Homo sapiens: one gene and its partner. The protein of the gene in region 1 purifies or fractionates together with the protein of each later gene. This does not show direct contact. Each region holds a gene or a part of one and is shown on either strand. Other genes may lie near its edges. The genes, in order: MPC1 and RAB8B.

Evidence for each region.
Region 2: the proteins of MPC1 (region 1) and RAB8B purify together in Homo sapiens (affinity purification with mass spectrometry; one large-scale study listed by BioGRID and IntAct). This does not show direct contact.

The regions. Positions count from the first base shown.
Region 1 is NC_000006.12:166,365,941-166,369,771, reverse strand, and holds part of MPC1 (mitochondrial pyruvate carrier 1), read left to right. Parts: intron 1-810; exon of another isoform or gene 811-1,039; intron 1,040-2,587; exon of another isoform or gene 2,588-2,803; intron 2,804-2,880; coding exon 2,881-2,977; intron 2,978-3,665; coding exon 3,666-3,798; intron 3,799-3,831. UniProt on the Homo sapiens protein: Mediates the uptake of pyruvate into mitochondria.
Region 2 is NC_000015.10:63,262,531-63,265,696, forward strand, and holds part of RAB8B (ras-related protein Rab-8B), read left to right. Parts: intron 1-161; coding exon 162-212; intron 213-996; coding exon 997-1,089; 3' UTR 1,090-3,166. UniProt on the Homo sapiens protein: The small GTPases Rab are key regulators of intracellular membrane trafficking, from the formation of transport vesicles to their fusion with membranes.

The DNA of each region.
Region 1 (3,831 bases):
ATGTTTTCCATTTAATCCAACATATGTTAATTTCTTTTTGAATTTTAATAAAGTTCCTTATTTTTCTCAAAATTGACTGCTGAATATCTGACAGCATAAATCAATTGTATTCTAAAAAAGGGAAGAGAGAACTAGAATATTGTACTAGATAGAAAAGATGCATTATAAACTTTCTAAGGTTAGGTATTTTAGTAAACTAGTGTTAAAATGATTTTTACCTTTCGTGTTCTTCTTAAGAAACATATTTTCAGTATAGCTCAACACTTACAGTCATAAGTGTATGTATAGTTCTTAACTTGCAGAACTGTTTCCTATAACCTAACACTCATCACACTTAAACTTTTTATTTTTTTAATTTTTTTTCTTTTTTGAGATGGAGTCTTGCTCTGTTGCCCAGGCAAGAGTGCAGTAGCACTATCTTGGCTCACTACAACCTCTGCCTCACGTGTTCAAGCGATTCTCCTGCCTCAACCTCCCTAGTAGCTGGGATTTCAGGTGCAAGCCACCACACCCAGCTAATTTGTGTATTTTTAGTAGAGACGGGGTTTCACCATGTTGGTCAGGCTGGTCTCAAACTCCTGACCTCATGATCCGCCTGCCTCAGCCTCCCAAAGTACTGGGATTACAGGTGTGAGCCACCATGCCCGGCCCATACTTAAACTTTTAATAACATCACTTAGCCAGGAATCTCCCAAGGCTACTTTAGGTTTAGATTTATTCCATTGTCCATTTCTGCTTTAGCCCCACCTATGAAAGAAGACACATTCACAACCAGTGGTAGAGAAACTGTGGTTTATATGCCCCTCTTAGAATAACTCTTCAGGCTCTGTTTATAGCCCTGGGTTCATGCATGATAAAGTAGACAGCAACACCACCATACAGTGCAGAGGAGTGGCAAGAGAGTAAACGGAAAAGGAGATGAAAATAGACCAAGTGGAGAAAGGCCTGGTCAAAAAAGGAGGAAAAGGAAGATCACTATGGAATAATAGAGAGTTGAAAAATGAAGTGACACCCAATAACAGGACGGGTAAGAAAAGAAGTAAGTAGGTAAGGGAGAGATAGATACTCTCCCTTACAAAAGTCTGGGGAATAAGGAAAAAAGAAAACTGGCCATATTGCATCTAAATGTAAGAAATTAAGGGTCATTGTTAATAGAATTCTGCAGGAGTGTACTTCTCTCCAACTTGTCATTTTCTTTTTTTTTTTTTTTTTTTCCCTGAGACGGAGTCTCGCTCTGTCACCCAGGCTGGAGTGCAGTGGTGCAATCTTGGCTCACTGCAACCTTCACCTCCCGGGTTCAAGCAGTTCTCTGCCTCAGCCTCCCAAGTAGCTGGGATTACAGTCACCTGCCACCACGCTGGCTAATTTTTATATTTTTAGTAGAGACAGGGTTTTACCATGTTGGCCAGGCTAGTCTTAAACTCCTGACCTCGTGATCCACCCGCCTCAGCCTCCGAAAGTGCTGGGATTACAGGCGTGAGCCGCTGCACCCGACCCAACTTGTCATTTTCAAAGAAATATTTCCTCCAAAGCCTTGCTGTCCAATTTGAGAGCCACTAGTCACCTCGTCTAAATGTAAGAAATTAAGTGAAAGTTGCAGTAGTGAGTATCTTAGATAACATGCAGTCTGAATGCAAGATAACTAATTAGCCAGCCCAGAATCTCAAGATTCTTTAAACCAACTGTGCCTAATTTACAGAGTTTATAACTCACATGTTAAACCCTGAAATACTTATGGTGATGGCTATGTGGGAACTTTGACCTTTTGTAGTTATCTAAATGACCTTGTGGCTTTCATGTTAAATAAACATTTTTAAATATTCTATTATGCCAAATCTAATTCCCATTTATTTTTCTTATATTTCCCTTGGTTTACCACTTTTTAGGGAATCTTTGGATTTTAACCCCTCGTCAATAGTAGAAGCAAAGTCTGAATTTAACCTAAACATTATGATAGGCAGAAGTCAAGCAAAGACTGTTTTTACTCTTTAGTGTTAGGATAACTAAAAGGGGTGTTTAGCCAACAAGATGTGGTTCCTTTCAGATTTGAAAATATTATTTCCAAATTCTAAATTAATGAAACAATTTTTCATCTTTAATGAACAAAAGCCACAAGCCTTATTTTATTTCAGCCTCTAAAATTAAATTGATTGTGGCTGCTGTCAAACACAGACGACTTCACTTTGGTATCCTTGGATGAGTGTAGTTGTGGAATGAAAAACTATTGGTTCATTTCTTTAATATTAATATAAGTTTTTGCTATTATGTCAAAAGTACTTTCCAATCTTAATTTCTTAGTGTCTGGGGTCCTGGGCATTGATTTCCAAGTTATTTTATCTTAGAATAGCTCATATGAGCTGAAAAACAATTTATTCTCTTATTAAGCTTCTTTCTTCAGAAAAGTACCCAATTTAGGGTCTGCATTTTAAGAATTATTAACAAATATCTTCATAAAAATTTGGGAAAAGGAGTGTGGATAGATTTAAACATAAAAATATGGAGAATAGTTCTAACAGGGTTTGAATTATAGCAACAATGGATTGTGTAAGAAGTGAATCTTATTTTTATTTTTAAATGTTCTAAATAGGACAATCAGAGATGACTTGGTTGTAGTGTGGAAACCAGTAGGGACCTTGGGAAGCTGCCAAACCCTTTCTAGCTCTGGGCTCAGCTGTAAGAACTGCTGATTCCTACAGGAACACTTGGACAATCCAATACCTAAATGTTAACCATCAATTAACCCAGTAAACCTGCAAGATGGAAACGAAGATTTGTTCTCACGAGTTTCACGTGATTATTTAAAGTAAGGGAAATTTCAGCTGTTTATAGTTCTGTCTTAACTTTTTCCTCTCTTCATTCTTTTCCTCTCATTTTTTGTAGCACTTCTGGGGCCCAGTAGCCAACTGGGGTCTTCCCATTGCTGCCATCAATGATATGAAAAAGTCTCCAGAGATTATCAGTGGGCGGATGACATTTGGTAAGAATGCAGATTTGGATAATTGGGAGGACTTTCAACATAGTAGAGCTCCTGCTTGCATTTCAAGATTGTAGCACTAGATGTTACAGTCACTATTAGAAAGTCACATACAGAATGTGATGGCATGGAAGAGTGTTACTTCTCTATGTCAGTAAGAAACAAGATTAATTAGAAATATTTATCTAGGAAGTAGTAACATCTTATTTGCCTTTCAGATTTAGCACACTGAACTGAAGACTGTGTCATCTGAATCATTCTAATAGTCACTTTAATGATTTATATTGTGAACTTTTTTGGGGGAAACTGTCATTAAACTGACTTGAAACCCTGATATTTGAACATAAAACTATTGTGGAGGGAATAAATAACAATTCTTTCAGATAATGAATGGATTATAAGCAACTCCAGGAGACAAAAAAAGTGTCTAGAACAAATTTCAGCCTACTCTTGCTCGGAAATATGTTCCTTAAATGTTTAAATAATTAACAAAAATGCATAGCAGTACAGTAAATTTTTTTATGAGCTTCCTATTGATACAGGCATTTAAGTAACAACTTTTATCTGTCAAAGGCTTTCGCAGAAGAGGTTCTTTTTTGATCAGGGCAATGGAACTGTTCATCTCTGTGGTCCTATCAACCCTCTCAGTTTTCTAAGTTATTGATTGTCTTTGCTCTGCTATTTTTGGCAGCCCTCTGTTGCTATTCTTTGACATTCATGAGATTTGCCTACAAGGTACAGCCTCGGAACTGGCTTCTGTTTGCATGCCACGCAACAAATGAAGTAGCCCAGCTCATCCAGGGAGGGCGGCTTATCAAACACGAGTAAGCAGATTTCAATTTAGTTACTTTCTTTTC
Region 2 (3,166 bases), on another chromosome or scaffold:
TGAGGTGGGAGGATTGCCTGAGCCCAGGAGTTCCAATTCAGCCAGGGCAACATAGCAAGACCCCATCTCTGAGGCGGGGGGAATATATATATGTGTATATATATATATATACATATATATAGTGAATATATAATAATGAAAATGTTTTGTTTTACCTATAGGCATTTTTTACACTTGCACGAGATATAATGACAAAACTCAACAGAAAAATGGTTTGTATCACTTATAATTTTTATTTCCATTATGCTGTCTGTTTGGCATTTGATGAAAAGGATAGGTCTAATTATAAGATACTCAAATTAAACTCATTTTTTTCCTGACTCAGATACTCATTTGGTTGAACTCTGATTCTTAGTTCTGTTTGTTTAGGATTCTTATTTCTGAGCTGCCACTGTTTCAGTCCTTTCTTCTGGCTCTTTAAGTGATCTTTAATTGAATTTTGATGAGAATAATGAAAATAATAATGGCACAAATTCGATTTTTGCCATAAAATTATTCAGTTTTCATGTGACAGGTATTTATATCTGCATAACTACGATTTTGAAGTTGCTAAAGTTTGCTTAAATTTGAAATCATTAAGACAACCTTGAAAGTTTGTTTTATCCTGAGTCCTGACTATAATTGCGTACCTTATGCTACTAACTCTTCTTACCTCTAACAGAACTGTCTATGCCAGTATCTTAACATTGTTTCCATCATTACCTTTGAAACTTTACACTCCATTGGAACTAGAAATAGAAGCTTCCTATTGAATACATTATTGATATAAAAGCTGCTATCGTAAGGGCATTTTCCTCTTTTCAATTCACCATTTCCAAAGAAAAAGACAACATTGGTGCTTAACTAGTTCCCGTTCTAATAAAATACTCTAGTGAATACACATTTCACTAGAATACACATTTCACATGGTATGGTTAGTTATTTTTATTTTTTAGGTAACTGAGGTCAAACCATGAAACTTTTATTTCCTTGGTAACTTCATCTTCTATTTTTTAGAATGACAGCAATTCAGCAGGAGCAGGTGGACCAGTGAAAATAACAGAAAACCGATCAAAGAAGACCAGTTTCTTTCGTTGCTCGCTACTTTGATGAACTCTTTCTGAGAGACTGCAGCACACCTAGAGGGCCCTTTCCTGCTTCTCTGAAAGCACAGGTCACCCAGCCTCAGAATCACACCTCCCGGCTGCTGCTGAGAGCACCACTGAACTTAGACCTCTCAACACAGTATGCCAAGTGGATTCCAGCCTCATGGCCTAGCAAAAGAACAGACTCCCTTTTTCAAACATGGAAGCAATGAAGTGGAGACACATGCAGGACCTAACTCGTTTTTTCCTTGTTTTATTACCTGTTGCAGAAGCGGTTATCTTTCTTTTTTACTTTGCACATCAGTGTTAGCCTTTCCCTATTTCAGCACAATCTTAGACTCATATTTGCACACTTTTGTGTCGTGAAGTTCTAGACAAATTTGTACATGTGGCAATGTTAAAAGAGCATTTACAGCAGAGGTTAATATACTAAAATTAAAGGGTATTTGGTCTGGTTCATATGGTCAAATATTACTGCCTTGGTAGCATTTATTTAAGGGCTTTTTCTTAAATAAGAATCATTAAAGTCATTAAAAAAATTTACTGAAATGCCCATCTTGTCATCAAAGGCCACAATTTCTTTATTTCTTCAGATTAAGAGCTTTGCCTCATCCCCGACCTGTTTTCCAGAGTCTGGGTAGCTGAATGAATCACTTTAAAATGATTACCTCTGCCTAATCTATAGAAACTGCATTTGGAAATCACCATAATCTCATTTTTCCCTGGGGTTTGTATTTGCTATTCTTTCCCATGTTTGACTTAAGTGTAATCACTCTTAAGTAATATTTGAACATTATTATCTGTTTCTATTTGTGAACTTCTTGAGCTGAAATTTTACGTGGGCTGAGAGATATACCATTTAGGGTTTTAGTGCAGCATCTAACTGTGATTCTGTCAATAAGGATATGTAATATATTTTTTCTTAGGTTCACTCCTTAGCTGGCTGGTTTAGTTGTAATACCAAATTCCTACCATAATCCCTGTCTACAAAAGTTAGGTTTAGATTTTAGTTTGCGGAAACCTTCCCTATATAGAGACAGATTAACTTGTTGATATAAATTTAATAGAGCTAGCTCTTGGTAATGGTGAAAATAATGAGTTTTGGTTGGTTTTATTTGGCAGATGTTTTTAGAAATAAAAGTACTTAGACCTAGTGCAGCCTCTAGGAAAAGTCTTGCCTTTTCATTAGAGAAAACAGGACCAAGGTTTCAGTTTTCAAACAGCTGTTGTTGATTGTGTAGAACCCAGTTCCATCTGTTTTGGTTCATTGTTACAGAACTTAGTCCAGTCATTTGGGCTAAAGCCAACCAAAAGCTTAGTTGCCTTTCTCAACAAACACTGGTACTGGTATACTTTTGTAGATGAAACCATCACAAGGTATTTAGTGTTAACTTGTGTGCCAAATTCAGATCACTATGTCGTTGTTGCTCTAGCCTTCAGTGTCATAACACAGGGGGGATAAAACAGAGGGGATGAGGGAAATGAATTCTGTTAATAATTATTCTTCCTGGTATGCCTGTTTTGCTTCACAAAGGCTACTATCATGCTGGATAGATAAGAACAGGAGATGGCAGTGGAAAGGGATTGCTTGTTACCACAGAGAATTCTCTTCAAATTAAGATATGTCATTAGAATGCTTGGACCAGTCAATCTTTTGTACTTATTTGAAAATATAGGAACAATTTAGCAGCTGCAAATATGCCCAAGCTATTTTTAATAGATATACTAAACTTATTGTTGACAAATTTCAGCCTCCTTAATTTTTTTTTTTTTGGTAATTACCTATAGGCTTAAAAGTCATTCGTTGCTGTTCTAGTATAATTAGTAGTTCCGTGATTGAAAGTTTATTGTAATTCTACTATCTTCAAATTAGATACATTTTCAAAAGGAAAAGATAATTTTTTAGAAACATCTTAATATTCACTATTTCCTGAAAAAATCCAAGCAGTTAACGCTTTCTGGATGGTAACAAAGTACCTTCTAAAAGATAAGTGCTATGACACCATGTATGAATGTAATTCTCTTAGTAATTTACCTCTGACTATTTGGTGTCTTAACGCTTTGGTTTATATAATCTCAGG